Regions from separate parts of the Homo sapiens genome. Here region 2 is linked to region 1. A link means that fine-mapping ties the variant in region 1 to the expression of a gene that starts in the linked region. Tissue or cell type: prefrontal cortex. Region 1 holds a variant in brackets; the other region holds the start of a gene. All regions are shown on one strand. Distances are from middle to middle.

Region 1 (8,106 bases):
AATAAGTGTATTATCAGTTGGAAAATATAACACTTTTTATAAGGAAATGCAGAGAAAATCCTATTCTTTTTATGAAAAGGATATGCAGGCAGAGAAAACTAATTGGAGGACAGGGATAAAAATTGGGATGTACAGTGCTTAGATGGGAGTAGGGGTAATTCTTATTTTTCTTCATCTTATTGTGTTTTTTTTCAAACTGCCATAATAAACATGTACTTCATGTTGAAAAAATTAATAAAAGTTATAGTTTTAAAAACATGAAGGGCCACACTCATGCATGCATATGCACACACACACACACACACACACACACACTCCAACCCAACCCAAAGTGGTGCAAGACTATATATTCATATACTTTCTGTCAGTGCCGGCAAATGCTCTTGCCACCTCGCTGCATTCATTCAGTTTTCTTGGGGATAAACAGTCTCTGAAATTGTAGAATCTTCTCCCATACAAACACAGGAAATCCCTGCAGGCTCTTCACCTCCCCAGTTCTGTTAGGAGGTAGGCAGCTGCTATGTAGCATTATTCTTCATGGCCAGAGGTAGTACCAAGATAGGGATTCAGCTGCTCTGTTCTTCCACTCTGCAAATCTTCTGCAAGCACGTGAGCAGGCCAGGGAGGGGCTGCCGCCATTTGGTGGTGAAGACACTCTGCTTGTGAAGGGCAACAAGTCAGAGGTCTCTAAGGGCCCCCTCGGCCCTGTCTGTCTGGCCCATCGTGGGCTTGTTCTTCACTAATTGTCTCTCACTGCTGACAGAGCCCACGAGTGTCTTTATGCGTGACAGATTCCTTGCAAATGGTGAATGGCGGAAAGATGACCCAGCTAATCATCAGACCTGCTTCTAAAATGCCATCTAGTCAGACGCAGCAGAGCCCAGCTCTACTCACTCATCCATGAATGTGACTCTGAGCTGTGAGAACAAAAGCCAAAGCAACTCTCTATTAGGAAACCCAGGGGGAAGACAGCAATGTAATAAGTCCCAGGTTCAAAATGACAAGTGATTCACTGAAGATGCCACAGCAGTACAGTCTATCACTGGGCACAGTGATATGGCCAAAAGCATGAGAATTTTATAAGATAATGAATTATTGGCTGGGCTACAAAATGAAAAATTTGAACTGATAAGGCCAGTAGACTATCCTTTTGAACCGAATTCACTGGAAGAATAAACTGTGGCATAGCAGCTCTTTTTTAGTAACAGGAATATGGTTACAAGATGCCTGAAAGGATGTTATCCACACACTATTGTCATCTTTTTAAGTACCCACTTCGTGCTCAATTCTACCATTCCATAAATTTATTCTTGGAATGGAGAGAAATAAAAAACATGATTTTTTTCTCCCTTTTGAAAAATCCTGAGTTATGTTAGAATTAGGAAACAGATTCCGTAATTATTAAGAAGGATAGATCACAGACTGGCCCCATTGTAAAGTTTATAAAATCAAATCCCATTTTAAAGCTTAGTAAGAAATGTGGCAATAGTAGCTCCTCCCACAGTGCCCTCAGCTTTCAGCCACTATTCAGCTTTGCCTGTGGTCTAACCATACCTTCAGCCACAGTGGCGGCAAATTAACAGCTACCATTTCCTGAAAGCTGACAATGAGCTGCATCTGGATGTGCTGTTGGCGGACATTATTGCTTTAATCATCACAAAGACCTCAGAGGTGAGTACAATCATTTCCCCATTCTGCCAATGAGGAAACTGAGGTGTAGAGAGGGTAAGTAACTTGTCCAAGGCCATACACCTAGTAGGCGGGGAGCAGGATTCAAGCTTCTTCAATGAGCATGCAAGAGAGAAGGGGAGGAGCCCTGTGGAGCAGTTGGAAAGGCTCAGGAGCCGGCACCCAACCTCATTCACCCTGGGCCAATCACTCAATCTCTGTACAGAAGGAGGTGAACCACCTTGCCCACTGCCCCACAGCATTGCTGAGAGGTCCAAATGAGATCACATACAGGAAAAGCCGTGAAAACAGTAAAGCATTCTATAAACACCATGTGCTATTGATAAAAGGACAGAAGACTAAATCATACTCCTTAGGAGCACAACACTTCAGTCATTCTGGCTTCAATGGAAAGACCACACCCCCTCTCGTCCCCTGACTTAATGCTTTCAATAAACAGCACAGGATTTTCTCGAGCGATCTTTTAAAGATGAAGGGCTCGGGTATGCATGCTGGTCCTTGAACTGGTCTTTGCAGGGAGCTTTAGTGTCTTACAATATTTAATACAGACATCCTGCCTGAGCTATTTATCCTGACTTGGGAAAGTAACCATTTCACTGTTACTATTAATTCTGTTCCAAAAAGAAAAAAAAGACTATTGTAATTTTACACCCTTAATCTATGCAACACAGGAATGAGAAAGAAAAAAAAAAACCCAACACGGTACTTTCTCATGAGTGAGGCACATTATATATAGTAATTCGCATTTTATTATTTTATCATTATGAATAGTAAAGTCCACAGTTCAGTCCTCAGACAACATTCAGGTAAATGTTTTACATATGAGACACCTGCCTGTAATGTGATGACATGAGATATATATATGGATATATATATATATGGATATATATTTTGAACCACTGTGATTTACTAGTCTATTAAAATGCCATTACACATTTAAAAACTGAACAATTACAACAATGCAATCTTCAAGCAATTAAAAACAAAGAATTGTTGAGCCAACATGGGAGATCTGCTGAGTAATCTGGCCTTTCAAGTAATGTCTAGTGGAAACCCTGTTTTCTCCTTCCATCTGAAGATCATCAAAAATAAAAAACAAACCTACACAAAAAACCACCTGCTCTGAGTGAAAGTCAGGATTCAGCCCACATGACTCAGGGACACACTCCCCAGCGGTTGCTGGAGGCACCATCACTCCAACATGTGCAGGAGCAGCGAGGGGTCCACCTCCACAGCCCGCAGCCCGTTGTGCAGGCTCTGGAAGGTGGCCTGCTTCCCGAAGCGCTGCCGCCAACGGATGAAGGCCTCCACCACCTGCGACTGCACGTTGTGGGGGTGGTTGGCCTTACAGCGGTAGATATCCGTCTGGGACAGTCCCAGAGACA[G/A]CACCATGGGCTCCCACTCAGGGCCCAGCCTCTGGGCCAGCTGGTTAATCTGCCGGTCTGATGGGGAGCTGTTGAGGATGTGCGAGGGGATCCCAGTCAATCTGTCACCTGAGGAGGAAAAAGACACCCCGGTGAAATGAGCAAGGCAACAAACACATCATTTGGGGGCAGAAATGAGAATCGTGGGGAGAAGAAGGCAATGCTTCCAAATGGCAGAGCCAATTGGCTCTTGTCTTCTTCCTGGGGGCTGCTCTGTACAACGCCATGATTCAGGGCTTCAATGCTGTTAAGTATCTGTGAAAATGTTTTTACAGAAACTTTTTTTTTTTTTTTTTTTGAGACGGTGTTTCACTCTGTCACCCAGGCTGGAGAGCAATGGCATGATGTTGGCTCACTACAAACTCCACCTCCTGGGTTGAAGTGATTCTCCTGTTTCAGCCTCCCAAGTAGCTGGGATTACAGGCAACTGCCACCATGCCCAGCTAATTTTTGTATTTTTAGCAGAGACAGGGTTTCACCATGTTGGCCAGGCTGGTCTTGAACTCCTGACCTCAGGTGATCCACCTGCCTTGGCCTCCCAAAGTGCTAGGATTACAGGCGTGAGCCACAGCACCCTGCCTGTTACAGAAACTTTGAAAGCAACAAAATAAAAATAACTAGAAATCCCACCAGAAAAACTCATTGATAATAACTAGTCTATTTTCTTTGATATATAAAACACACATGAAGGGTTACCTCGTACATGCTGCTTTGTAACAGGCTTTTTTCACTTCTATCCCTTTTACTCAAGGCCAGGCAAGGCATTCTGGGGGAATTCAAGAATGGCTGCACAGACCCCAGCTCCCTCTGGCACTGTCTGTGGCCTTAGTGATGGGGCCTGTTCCAAGGCTGGGAATGCCCCTCCCTGCAGGAAAGGCACGTGCTAGAGGACAAAGGCTAAACCAAACAGCTACCCTCGCCGATGAGGTTGAACTTGAAATATTACCGAGAAAACGTGTAGCTGCTAACAGAAGCCAGAGCCAAGAGGGCTGCTGAGAACAAAATAAACCTAAGAGGCCATAGGGTAGCAGGAAGGGAAGAGAGCGGGGTTTGTTCATAGCAGAGGCCACAAGAGTGGAGTTACCGTTCTGGCAGAGCCCAGAAGAGGAACAGGAAGTATGAGACGGGGCAACGAGGAAATCTGACCTTACACTTCCTGAACTAGATTCTTATTTGCCTGAGGCCAGTCTGCTAAGAAGCATGACATTGAGTGAATGGTTATAAATGTGCCCAGCAAAACCAGTGAGCAGTGCCTTTGGTTATACAGAGGAGCTCCTAACTTCATTAGGGAAGGCCTTCCAGGGGAAGGAGGCTAAAGCTAAGCCCTGAACACTAGGAGGAGGAGCTGGGTGATGAAGGAGGAACAGGGCGTGGCGCATCTCGAGAAGAGAGAATTGCATGTGCAAAGGCCCAGAGGCAGGAGAATCGCAATGGAGGAAGTGAAAGGCACTCACAGCAGCCAAGTGCAGAGATTGAGACGGACTCCAAACATCCAAAGTCATTTGCTAGGTTCAGACATTTGTTTGACAGCACAGTACACTATACTCCCATCCATCAGCATCACAGGGATTCAGGTCAGTCTACTTCATGCTCATCAGTCCACTATTGTGTTTTGATTTATGATTCAATAAGAAGGCAAAGGCACCTTATTACAAGAGCTGATGTTTTCCACAGCCCATGTCTTTGGCCTCTGGGCAGCGGCCAGCACCTTAGAGATGAGTTGCAAAAATATTGTCAAGGGCTCTTTCTGGTGTTTGTCAACACTACAATTTAAAAAACAATGACTATGACGCAATTAGAATACTGATGACACTACTGATCAATAGTTGAGATTAACAGCAATGATTTTACGGCTTGTATAAAAACATAGGCTCATTAAAAAAAAAATAAAGCAACAGAAAACAGCGCAAAGAAGAAAAGAAATCATCCAATATCCCGCTATTGTGTTTACAGTTGGTGACCATCATTCTGGATATCTCTGTATGCACATACACTGGTAGAAGGCTAGATAGAGGGTAATGGGTTCATTTAAAATGATAACATATGACCTTTTCTTTCCAGTAAGAGCTATGTAATTTTGTTTGGATGTAACAGAAGAAAAAGCAGAAGTGAAACAAAATGACATTCTGACCAGCGGTTACAAGTTAACATACTTGAAAACATACACACACACAATTTAATGCACAGAAAAAAGTTACGAAAACTCAAGGGTTAACTGCATGTTTTTATAGAAATACTCTATAATTACTTTACATTTCCTCTCCACTTCCTCACACTTGATTTTTTTTCACTTACATAATTTTTATTTTGCCAGATGCCTAATAGTTATACATTTCTTTAACAATCATCCATGCCCCCTTGCCCCATTGTTTAGTCCTAAGGTGGCATTGTAATGGTTGAATGCTCACCAGTGTTTTGTTGTTGTTGCTGTTGTTACTGTTCTTCATCTGTGGCTTTTCTACTCCTGGGTCTGTTCTTCTGATTTGAGTCATTTGGGTCAATTTCATCACAGGGAGGTTTTTTTTTTTTTTTTTTTTTTTCAAGCAATGCTCATGACTGCCATAGTCTCTTGACTTCTTTCAGGTCAAGGCATCCTGCTTATTGCCTTCACTGGAATAATAACTTAATATTTAGAGAACAATTTTATATTATTTTTATCTTTTTATATTCTTAACAGTATAATATAAAATTATATTCATAATTTTAAATTATATTATTTAAATAATGTTATTTCCCTTAAAAGTTTGTAGACCTTGTTCGTACTTTATGGTAGGGGTTGCTGATGTGGAGAATTCTGATACCAACTTAGTCATCCAGTATTTTGTGTAACTTGCTTTTCCTGTCTGAGGTCTAAATACTGAAACTTTAGACCAGGGTATATGTTATCCATTCTACATCTGCACTTTCAGATATGTGGCATAACCTTCTTTTTTTCTGAGACGGAGTCTCGCTCTGTCATCCAGGCTGGAGTGCAGTGGCGTGATCTCAGCTCACTGCAAGCTCTGCCTCCTGGGTTCATGCCATTCTTCTGCCTCAGTCTCCGGAGCAGCTGGGACTACAGGTGCCTACTACCATGCCTGGCTAATTTTTTTTTGTATTTTTAGTAGAGATGGGGTTTCACTGTGTTAGCCAGGATGGTCTCGATCTCCTGACCTTGTGATCCGCCTGCCTCAGCCTCCCAGAGTGCTGGGACTACAGGCGTGAGCCACTGTGCCTGGCTGGCATAACCTTCTAACCAAAGATTCAGTTGTTTCTTCCTTTTGGGAAAATCTTCCTGGGTCACATGGTTGCATTCTTTTCTTGCTCCATATGCTGGATGGCTGTGCCTCTCCTCCATGGCTGTTATATTGTCCTTATTGCTTTAATCCCCTCCTTGGGATTATCTCACTCTTTGATTTTCAGCTATGTCCATCGTGTGTGTGTGTGTGTGTGTGTGTGTGTGTGTGTGTGTGTGTGTTCTGGTTTTAACGTTGTATTGTGTTTTTGTTCTTTATTTCTTTTCTTGGCTCTATCTTTTAAAAAATCCATTCCACTTCACACTCATTAGGAGAGCTACTATCAAAACAAAACAAAACAAAACAAAAAACAGTAAGTCCCAAATGTTGGCAAGGGTGTGGAGAAATTGGAACCCTTGTGCACTATTGGTGGGAATGGAAAATGGTGCAGGTGCTGTGGAAAACAGTATGGCAGTTCCTCAAAAATTTAAAAATAGAATTAGCATATGATCCAGCAATCCCACTTCTGGGTATATACTCAAAAGAATTGAATGCAGGGACTCAAAGAGAAATTCGTACACCTATGTTCATAGCAGCGTTATTCACAATAGCCAAAGGTGGAAGCAAACTGAGTATCCACTGGATGAATGGATACGCAAAATGTCAGAGACATACAATAGAATATTATTCAGCCTTAAAAAGGATGGAAATTCTGACACATGATCCAACATGGATGAATCTTGAGGACATTACACTAAGTAAAATAAGCCAGTCACAAAAGGACAAATACTTTCTGATTCTATTCATATGAGGTACTTGGAGTTGTCGAATTCAGATACAGAAAGCAGAATGCTGGTTGCCAGGGGGTGGGGGAGGGAGAAATGGGGAATTATTGTTTAATGGGTACAGAGTTCCAGTTTTGAAAGATGAAGACTTTTGGAGATTGGTTATAAAACAATGTGAAGGTACTTAACACAACTGAATTGTACATTTAAAAATGGTTACAATGGCAAATTCTATGTTATGTACATTTTACCACAATTAAAAATAAAAATTAAAAGAATCCCATTGTTGTTTTATCATGATGACATCTTGAGTTTTTGTTTCTACTCAATTGATGCTGAGTCTTTCTATAGCATAAAATACTTGTGAGGTTGAGTTTTCTAGGACTGGGTTTTCTTATAGACCAGATTGGTTGTATGTTTATTTTTGCAAGCTGTGTTCCTTTCTTTTCTTTATTAAAAATATATATATATATATTTAATAGAGACAGGGTCTTGCTGTGTTGCCCAGGCTGGTCTCAAACTCCTGGCCTCAACTGATCCTCGTGACCCAGCCTCCCAAAGTTTTGGGATTACAGGTGTGAACCACTGTGCTCAGCCAACAAGCTGTGCTCCTCTCTTGCATTCCTCTGCTGCAGCATTTCACAGAACAGTCATGACACTCACTGCCATCTTGTTCATACTTATAACGTGAACATCTCTGTCCAGAACTGCTCTTTGCTCTCCCAGAGCAAGCTGATGTATCTTTTGACACTCTCCTCACTTTATAGGGAACCAGGTGTCGTTCTACCTCTGAGCTACAACTTTAGGTTGGCTGCTGCTTTCCATGAACACTTCTGCCATGGAGGAGAGGCAGGAGTCATGAGGCCTGTCCTTGGGGGCTCTATACTCTGTCCTCTTTTGGAGGGGAGTTAAATGTCTTAGACCAGGGCCCACTCTGCCAAACCAGGGCAGACTCACTCCTATGGTCTCTTTCCTGTAACTCAACACAGAGAC
Region 2 (8,106 bases), 170 kb after region 1:
GGATTTTCAAAAACATATGAAGATTTTAAAAGTGATTTTTAGGAGATAGGAAACTATAAAGTGAAGAAGTGAATGAATGATAAACCCCCAATTCAGGGCTTTTCACTGCGTGGGGGTTGGGAATGAGACAAGATTGGGAAGGAGTGCCCGGGGTTTTTAAAGGCAATCGTAATATTATTTTTCTTAAACTGAGTGATGAGGAGACGGGTGTTCGCTGTACCATTATTCTCCATATCTTACTTATATTTTGTAATATTATTTAAAATAGTCAATATTTAATAAATACAAGTCTTTTTTAAAAGAGTTTATGTGATTGTCACCGTGGAAGGTATTCAAAGACATATATAAATCAAACCCTCACTTCAGAATGTTTTTTTCAATAGCAGTGTTACTCAGTAAAAAGTAAAACAATTAAGATGACTGTACGAATTTGTTCCAGAGCCAACCTTCTACAGAATTAACAAATCTTGAGAAAAACCTTATTTTTCTAAACTTCTACACAGATATGCTCAATTTTTTTCCCATTATGTACTGCTTCATTCTGTTTGCTTTTTTAAAAAGCTATTTTTCCTCAGCTTCTCTGTAACTCTCATCATTTTGTAAAAAATGCCTTAATTCTTTCTAACTCTCTGAATGAATCTGAAGAAATAATGGGGTTATGGCCGAGCATGGTGGCTCACGCCTGTAATCCCAGCACTTTGGGAGGCCGAGGTGGGCGGATCACCTGAGGTCGGGAGTTTAAGACCAGCCTGACCAACATGGAGAAACCCCATCTCTACTAAAAATACAAAATTAGCCGAGCATGGTGGCACATGCCTGTAATCCCAGCTACTCGGGAGGCTGAGGCAGAAGAATTGCTTAAACCCGGGAGGCAGAGGTTGCAGAGAGCCGAGATCGCGCCATTGCACTCCAGCCTGGGCAACAAGAGTGAAACTCCGTCTCAAAAAAAAAAAAATGGTATTATACCTCTACGAATGACATACAACAGCATGATCTGTATCACCCAAAATGACCATAAAATTAAATTCAGTATTTTGATAGTGAAAGGCTTTCAGTTCACCTGTTTTGTTGTTTCCAACTATATGATGCCAGCAGAAACCTCTAAGTCAAATATCAGGAAAACACCAATAATTTTTTAACATTTCTCCAACTCTATGTTATCTATTCTGCTTTCAATAAAGTCATAAAAACATCTAGATACATTTTGTTCAGACATGTGGAGTATTTAATTTTGTAAGGACAATCCAAGCAGTGAATTCCAGTGGTCCTCAAAAGCCAGCTATGTCTAATATTTCAAAAAGCCTAAAGATACATTTAACTGTAACGAGCCCAGACTAGGAATGAAAATACTTTTGCTTTTTCCACTGGGATCTTACCAGGTCTTCCTAAAGTTAGCTGGCTATGTCATGCTGATCAGGTATTCAGACATATGTCAAAATATGAGGTCCATGGAGCAAAAATAGTAAAAGTGGTCTTATTATCAGTATTCATTTTTTTTAACCAGTATTTAAAAAATAGCAACCACGAAGTCTGGGGCCCACTGAACCGGAATAGTTCTATCACTCTTATCAGAAACCCCAGAGAACCTTGATTCTCTAACTTTGTTAAAAATTTGCAAGCCAACTTTCAATTACTTTTTTTTTTCAATTTTTAATTTTTGCCAGTTCAGTTCTCTGCCCCTCTATCTTTGTGAAACAGAGTCAAGGGAGGTTAAGAAAAAGCAAGTGTTTCCATATCACATCTTCTTCCTGCTACAAGCCAGGCTAACAGAACCAGAACTGTTTCTCTCTTCTCCAGCTTCCAATTCTCCTTCAAATTAAACTGAGACCCTCCCCAAACTATTGCTCTTTGCAAAATTAAATACTCCAGTGTCTGAACAAAGCTAAACTAAAAAGGACACTTTAAACGAATAACCTTTAAAAACAAACTAAGTCAGCCTTCAAAATAATCCCCTTTGGCCACACAGGACAGCCCAGGGGACAGGTGCAGGGCATGCCTTCCTAGAGGCTGTCTCCTCCTCCATGAATCTGACCTTTTCCAGCTGGTAGCTCTGGCACCTCACAAATCAGTTGTCAGTAGGCCGAATGCCTGCTTTCCCATCTGCACTTTCCAAATGGCTCCTGATGCCAACGGCTGAGATATGACCTGGCTCTCTGATGAGAACATGCTTCCCAAGTGACATGCCAGGTTTCCTGGAAGCATTTCTAAATGCATTCTCTGAGCTCCCTCCCTCACCTCCCAGTCACGGTTCATTCTTCCTTCCCTGCACTTCCTAATGCCACCTCCTGATCCTATTCCTCCAACGTCATGTCCCTTCAGTCCCAAATCCTTACCCACTTTCATCAACCATTGACCCTTGTCCTGCCTTACATCCCAACTTCAAATCCAAAGGGCATAGTTCTGGCTAGGTGTGGTGGCTCACGTCTGTAATCCCAGCACTTTGGGAGGCGGAGGTGGGTGGATCACCTGAGGTACGGAGTTCGAGACCAGCCTGGCCAACATGATGAAACCCCATCTCTACTAAAAATACAAAACTTAGCAGGGCATGGTGGCAAATGCCTGTATTCCCAGCAACTCGGGAGGCTGAAGCAAGTGAATTGCTTGAACCCAGGAAGCAGAGGTTGCAGTGAGCCGAGATCACACCATTGCACTCCAGCCTGGGCAACAGAGCAAGACTCTGTCTCAAAAACAAACAAACAAATAAACAAAAAAGCAAAGAGCATAGTTACAACATTTTGGAGCTGGTTCAAAGTGATCTTTCTGAGGCCTACCTGCAGGCAGGTCGGTCATGGCCTCTTCCCTTGCCTTCTTCAGCTTCTCCCTGACCCAGGGAAACTCCTGTAGGGAATCTAGGAATGTATCAAATGCTTTAGGGCCCCTGGAAGGTAGGATATCCAGCAGGAGCATTGTTTTCCGGAGGCCTGTGGTTTGAGCATTGATTTCTTGAATATGGTTTTCCGTCAAGATTCCTTCCTGGTAGAGGTACTGAAGAACCAGTCCCTCCACCAATACCTCTGCACCCAGCTCCAGGCGAAGTGAGCGGAGTACTTGTTTGTCTCTGGCCTCCATTTCTCCCTGGAAAGAGCCAAAATCACAGCTCAAATTACAGACATGTTGATGTGGCCCTAAAGACAGTGTCACTGCAATGTAAGTTCCTTCAGGTCAAGCACATCTTTAAACCATAGCAGACTGCCAGGTCATGGTATTTAATTCACTGATTAAGCCAAGCCAGGTTAATTTTGAATGTTTCCTAACATAATGAACAACAATGAAGATGAATCATCTTTTCTGTTTCTGCTTTTCACACAATGGGGTCCCAGCTCAATTCCTCGTTCAATAAAGAAATTTGGAAAAAGAAAAAAAAAAAGTGGGTCAGAGACCCTTCTGAACAAGCAATTTTTATCTGAAGATTACAGAGCAGCACTAATTTTAACACGCTGGAGAAGAAATGGTGGTTTTATTTTCACATTGCCCTCATCAGACCTGCACCACCACCACCAAGGCAGAAACTGCCAAGGTGGACGCAGGTCCCCTTTTTTTGATCACAAGTATTTGCAAAACCTGATCAGTAATAGGAGTGCAGGACAGAAATCAGCAGGTTCAGAATTTAAGGCTCTTTTCGCTAAAAGTCCTCTACACGATCACCTTTAAGAAAATTGTTGTTTGTGCCCAGTCTACAATAAACTTTACACAATATACAGTCACAGACTCCATTCCTTCCCACTAAGAATTCCGAATCTCCAGCACAACACTGTCGTGGCCGCACATGCATGGGACATTTTATGGGATTTTTTTCTTTCAAAAAAAGCACACACCCCAGCACTGGTCAGTAGCCAGGCACGATTTGAAGGTGCAGTTCCACCACCCCTGCACCAGTGTGCTGTGGCTTGGTTGTGTGTAAGGCAGTGAAGGTTAAGTGACCGGGAAGGCAGGCAGGGATGACAGATGGGGCTTCAGACACACCCGGGCAGTACGACCACGGCTAGGCGACACCCGATCCCACACTCCCCCTCGCAACCCTGTAAAGTTCAGGAGGTGACAGGTGAGGAGGGGAGGTGTTCACGTTTGGCCGTGAGCGCCCATTGGGAACTATTTAAAAAGGCTCTGCTTCGGCCGCTGAAACCCTTGTATCAAACAGGAAGACTACGGGCGGTTTCTGCGGCAACTTGACCCGCTAAAGAGGGAGTGCTGGGAATGAACTAAAGAGCGGACCAAGGGGAGAGCGGGCCTCCGGCACTGCCGCAGCCACCCAGCCTTGGCCCGGATCGGAAATGCGGAGCAAGTTAGCGGGGCGGGGAAGCCCCCGCAGGGCCCAGGTCGCAGACGCTACAATGCAGGACTTTCAAAGAAAGATGGATTCCTGTTACTTACGTCTGCAACCACGTATCTTTGGGGCGGGGGAGAAAAACTGCAACCGGAATCCTGACTGTTAGGGAACCTGCCCCATAAGCACCATCTTTGTTAATGGCGAAAACCCTAAACAGGAAGTGTTGACACCATCTTTGTTGAGGGCAAGTACAGGAAGTGCTGTCGCCATTTTTATTGAGCGTTCAAGGGTCGGATCGAAGCTCTTCCCGCCATGCTTACTGTGGGTAAACAATTCAATAGCGGGGAGATGGACAACCGTAGTGTCACTTAAAGGGTATCTAAGTAATGGAGTAATTGAATCATTGCATTTTAACACAGTAACTCCATCAGGGCCTCGCACACAATTGACCTAACAGAGAGGCAGGTCAAAAGCCACCCTAGTAGAGAAGCCTTCTCTGACCTATCTGATTAAAACGGCAAGACAGCTGCGCTCATTTCCTGCACTCCCCATTAACCAGCTTTATTTTTTACGCATCACCATCTTATTAAAACTTTTCACTTATTCATTTGTTTATCCTTCTGCTTCCCTCCATTAAAATGCAAGGTCATTTATTTATATCAAGGGTTCCTGCCCGCAAAGAGTTTACAAATCTGTCAGTCAGGATTTCATTGCAGCACTCAGCTAGTTACTCCTAGTCAGAAAGGGATTCGTTAGGGGGAATTGGGGACATTCGAAATCATTGGAAAGGCTGGAGAAGGGCTGAGCTGAACATCCATGGATGACTACCTAGATAAGATTGCTGATTGTGGCTGCTGCCCACAATCAGGAAGATGGCGTCAGGAAGTTGCCATGCCTGGTCCCCAACCTCCTCTCAACACCGACAGAACAATTAACAGGACACTGGAACAGTGCTGCAAAAAACGGTGGTCTCCACGGCTGCATTTGCCAGCAGCAAGAAAACAGCACCTGCAAATCTTGCTTTGCTGCGTGCCATTGGTGAGACCAATCTGACATGCAGAATATTAGCAGCAAGGATGTCTAGAGCATGTAGTTGGTAGCTTTCCAGCTTGTGAAACACAAAAAGGTATAGTAAATGAGGGAAGGCCTGACACTTAAAGCCAATCTACTGCATCCACCACATTTTCAATGTGGAAAGCAAGAAAAAATGCATGACCCAAATACAGAGAAACACAGCAATGCCAAATTGGGTGTCCTTCCTCACATTCCTTTGTGAAGCGAGGCAGGCGATCAATAAATACATTCATTGATTCATTTTTAAATCAATTGGATGATACATACAGAAAGTCATATGCTTACTAAAAATCAGTTGACAGTACAGGGGGAAAAAACTCCTAAAATATTATTTCTGCAAAGGTTTTCACAGCCAAACCCTTTGGTGGAAAATGAAAATATCTTTGTTAAGCAAATCAATGGAGAACAGTTCTGAACCTCCCTCCTCAAAACCTTCTAAAAATTGTATTCAATTTACAGCATTACTATGCCAGTTACCATTTTACTACACCGTTAATGACAGTATTTTTACCTATGTGGCAAGTATTATTATTATTACAGTCATGCATTGCATAACAATATTTGGGTCAATGACAGACTGCATATATGATGGTGGTCAGAGCAATAGGCTATGCTATATGGCCTAAGTATGTAGTAGGCTATACCATCTAGGTTTGCATAAGTACATCCTATTTTGTTTGCACAATGACACATTTTTCACAATGTATCTCCACTGTTACAACTGTTTTAGCATTTGCATGTATAAAGACTGTGGAATCAGAATGGTCAATTGTCTTAGGCAAAATCTCACAGCTAATATAGAGCAAAACTTGAAGTCTAATGAAGTTTCTCTGATTTCATGCTCTTTCCAATACACCATACAACCTTGTATAGTGAAGAGTTTATTGTTCTAATGATAGCCAAATATTATTTGCAAATCATCCTGTTGCCACCTCCCATTCTTGATACTCTTGAGTTCCAGGTGCTCTCTTTTCTCTCTCCCTTTTCCCCTTTTGCTTGAGAATCATTGTCCTTTCCTCAGCAAGATTTCCCATCTGTTCATAGACAAATGTTAGCACCATTCTTTGTCTTCATCCAGATAAAGTGCAGACCACTTGCAACACTGCCAAGCGTTGAAGTTTACAGGTTAAACATCCCTAATACAAAAATTTGAAATCCAGAATCCTCCAAAACCTGCCTGAGAGTGGTGGCTGACACCTGTAATCTCAGCATTTTGGGAAGCCAAGGCAGGCAGATCGTTTGAGCCCAGGAGTTCAGGGCCAGCCTGGGCAACATAGGGAAATCCCATCTCTACAAAAAATACAAAAAATTAGCCAGCCATGCTTGTGTACGCCTGTAGTCCCAGCTTCTCAGGAGGCTGAGGTGGAGAATCAATTGAACCCGGGAGGTGGAGTTTGCAGTGAAACAAGATCATGCCACTGCACTCCGGCCTGGGCGACAGAGAGAGACCCTGTCTCAGAAAAAAAAAAAAAAAGAAAGAAAAAGAAATGCTCCAAAACCTGAAGCTTTTTGGGTGTCAACATGACGCCACAAGTGGAAAATTCCACACCTGACCTTATGTGATGGGTCTCAGTCAAAACACAAACCTTTGTTTCATGTGCAAAATTATTTAAAATATTGTATAAAGTTACTTTCAGGCTATGTGTATAAAAAGTATATATGAAACATAAGTTTTGTGCTTAAACTTGGGTCCCATCCCCAAGTTACCTCATTATGTATATGCAAATATTCCAAAATCCCAAAAAATCCAAAATCCAAAACACTTCTGGTCCCAAGCATGTTGGGTAAGGGATCATCAACCTATACTAACTTTTTTAGAGAGGAAAAGCAAGTGGATTTTTTTCTAACTGTGAACTTCGATAAATTTCAAACATATAGGAAAGTTGAAACAAATAGCGCAATAAACGCCCATATAAAGTTTCATATTTCTTGATGACTCATCATATTTGGAAAGGCTTGAGATCTCCTAGAAGCTAGAAGGTGAGCCTTGATGATGATGCCCAGGAGGAGGTGGGGAACCAACAATAGGATCCGTGAGGGTTCACAGAAGAGAAGCAGCCAGAGACAGCAGGAGAGTGTCAGGGCAGCAGCCGAGGGGCATGGCGTCCTATGGTAAACAACCTGAAAGGGTGGCCATTAAAGATCTGACTTAAATCTGCAGCGTGAAGTCTTTAATCATCGAATGCCTCTTCCCATGGCAAATACAGATGAGGATCCATGCTGTCTCTTAAGCAACTAGGCTGAACGACTAGCCCACTGCCATCAGCCACCCCACCTCAGCATACAGCGATACTTCATGGCAGTACACCAAAGACCCAACTTTACTTAGACAGATTAGCTAAGGCCAGAGGGCTTCTAAGGAATGGAACACAGATCAGAATCATTATCACAGGTGGTTACTCCTCCGCTCTGGCCAGACCCTCTGTAATCTGAAATTGTGCCCCCACGGAGGATTAAGCACCTGTTACCCAGTGGTAACGAATCCACAGGAAGGACAGATATTTTCATTTTTCTCTCTCCCCTAGTATGTTTACTTGTGTCAAGATATCCCTATTGTGAGTTTGCAAAATAAAGAGTCAAAAAGAACAAATGCAGTATTTTTCTCTTTCGGTTTGGTCTTTGGTTTTGCAGCCTTCAAAAAATAAATAAAAGGAATTGGATGTTTTGGTTCTTCCTGTTTCATTGATGTAGAAATTAAGTCATGGGGAAAACCAGAGTCTTTTCAAGCATACTTGAAACATTTATTAAAATAGATCATAAATCAG

Alleles and levels. Alleles are on the strand shown, and positions count from the first base shown. SD is a standard deviation of normalised expression in the study named.
For the expression in prefrontal cortex of the gene that starts at base 4,469 in region 2, allele A in region 1 goes with a higher level than allele G (small effect, 0.36 SD a copy in ROSMAP).

The links. PIP is the estimated chance that this variant, and not a neighbour inherited with it, causes the effect.
Region 2: CRADD starts here. The variant in region 1 is fine-mapped to the expression of CRADD in prefrontal cortex (ROSMAP, PIP 0.93).

Annotation. Positions count from the first base shown.
Region 1 is chr12:93,845,046-93,853,151 of GRCh38, reverse strand. It overlaps CRADD (CARD and death domain containing adaptor protein), which reads right to left. Exons shown (of 3, transcript NM_003805.5): 3 at 2,396-3,182. The coding sequence ends at 2,881. Among named protein-coding and RNA genes, the nearest start is that of CRADD-AS1, 110 kb to the right of the region's middle. RefSeq lists an enhancer at 4,093-4,192 and a silencer at 5,109-5,158. The variant G/A (reference allele first, on the strand shown) is at 3,075.
Region 2 is chr12:93,673,738-93,681,843 of GRCh38, reverse strand. It overlaps CRADD (CARD and death domain containing adaptor protein), which reads right to left and starts at 4,469. Exons shown (of 3, transcript NM_003805.5): 1 at 4,372-4,469; 2 at 2,772-3,075. The coding sequence starts at 3,069. RefSeq lists enhancers at 1,967-2,781, 3,598-4,412, 4,385-4,624, 4,413-5,228.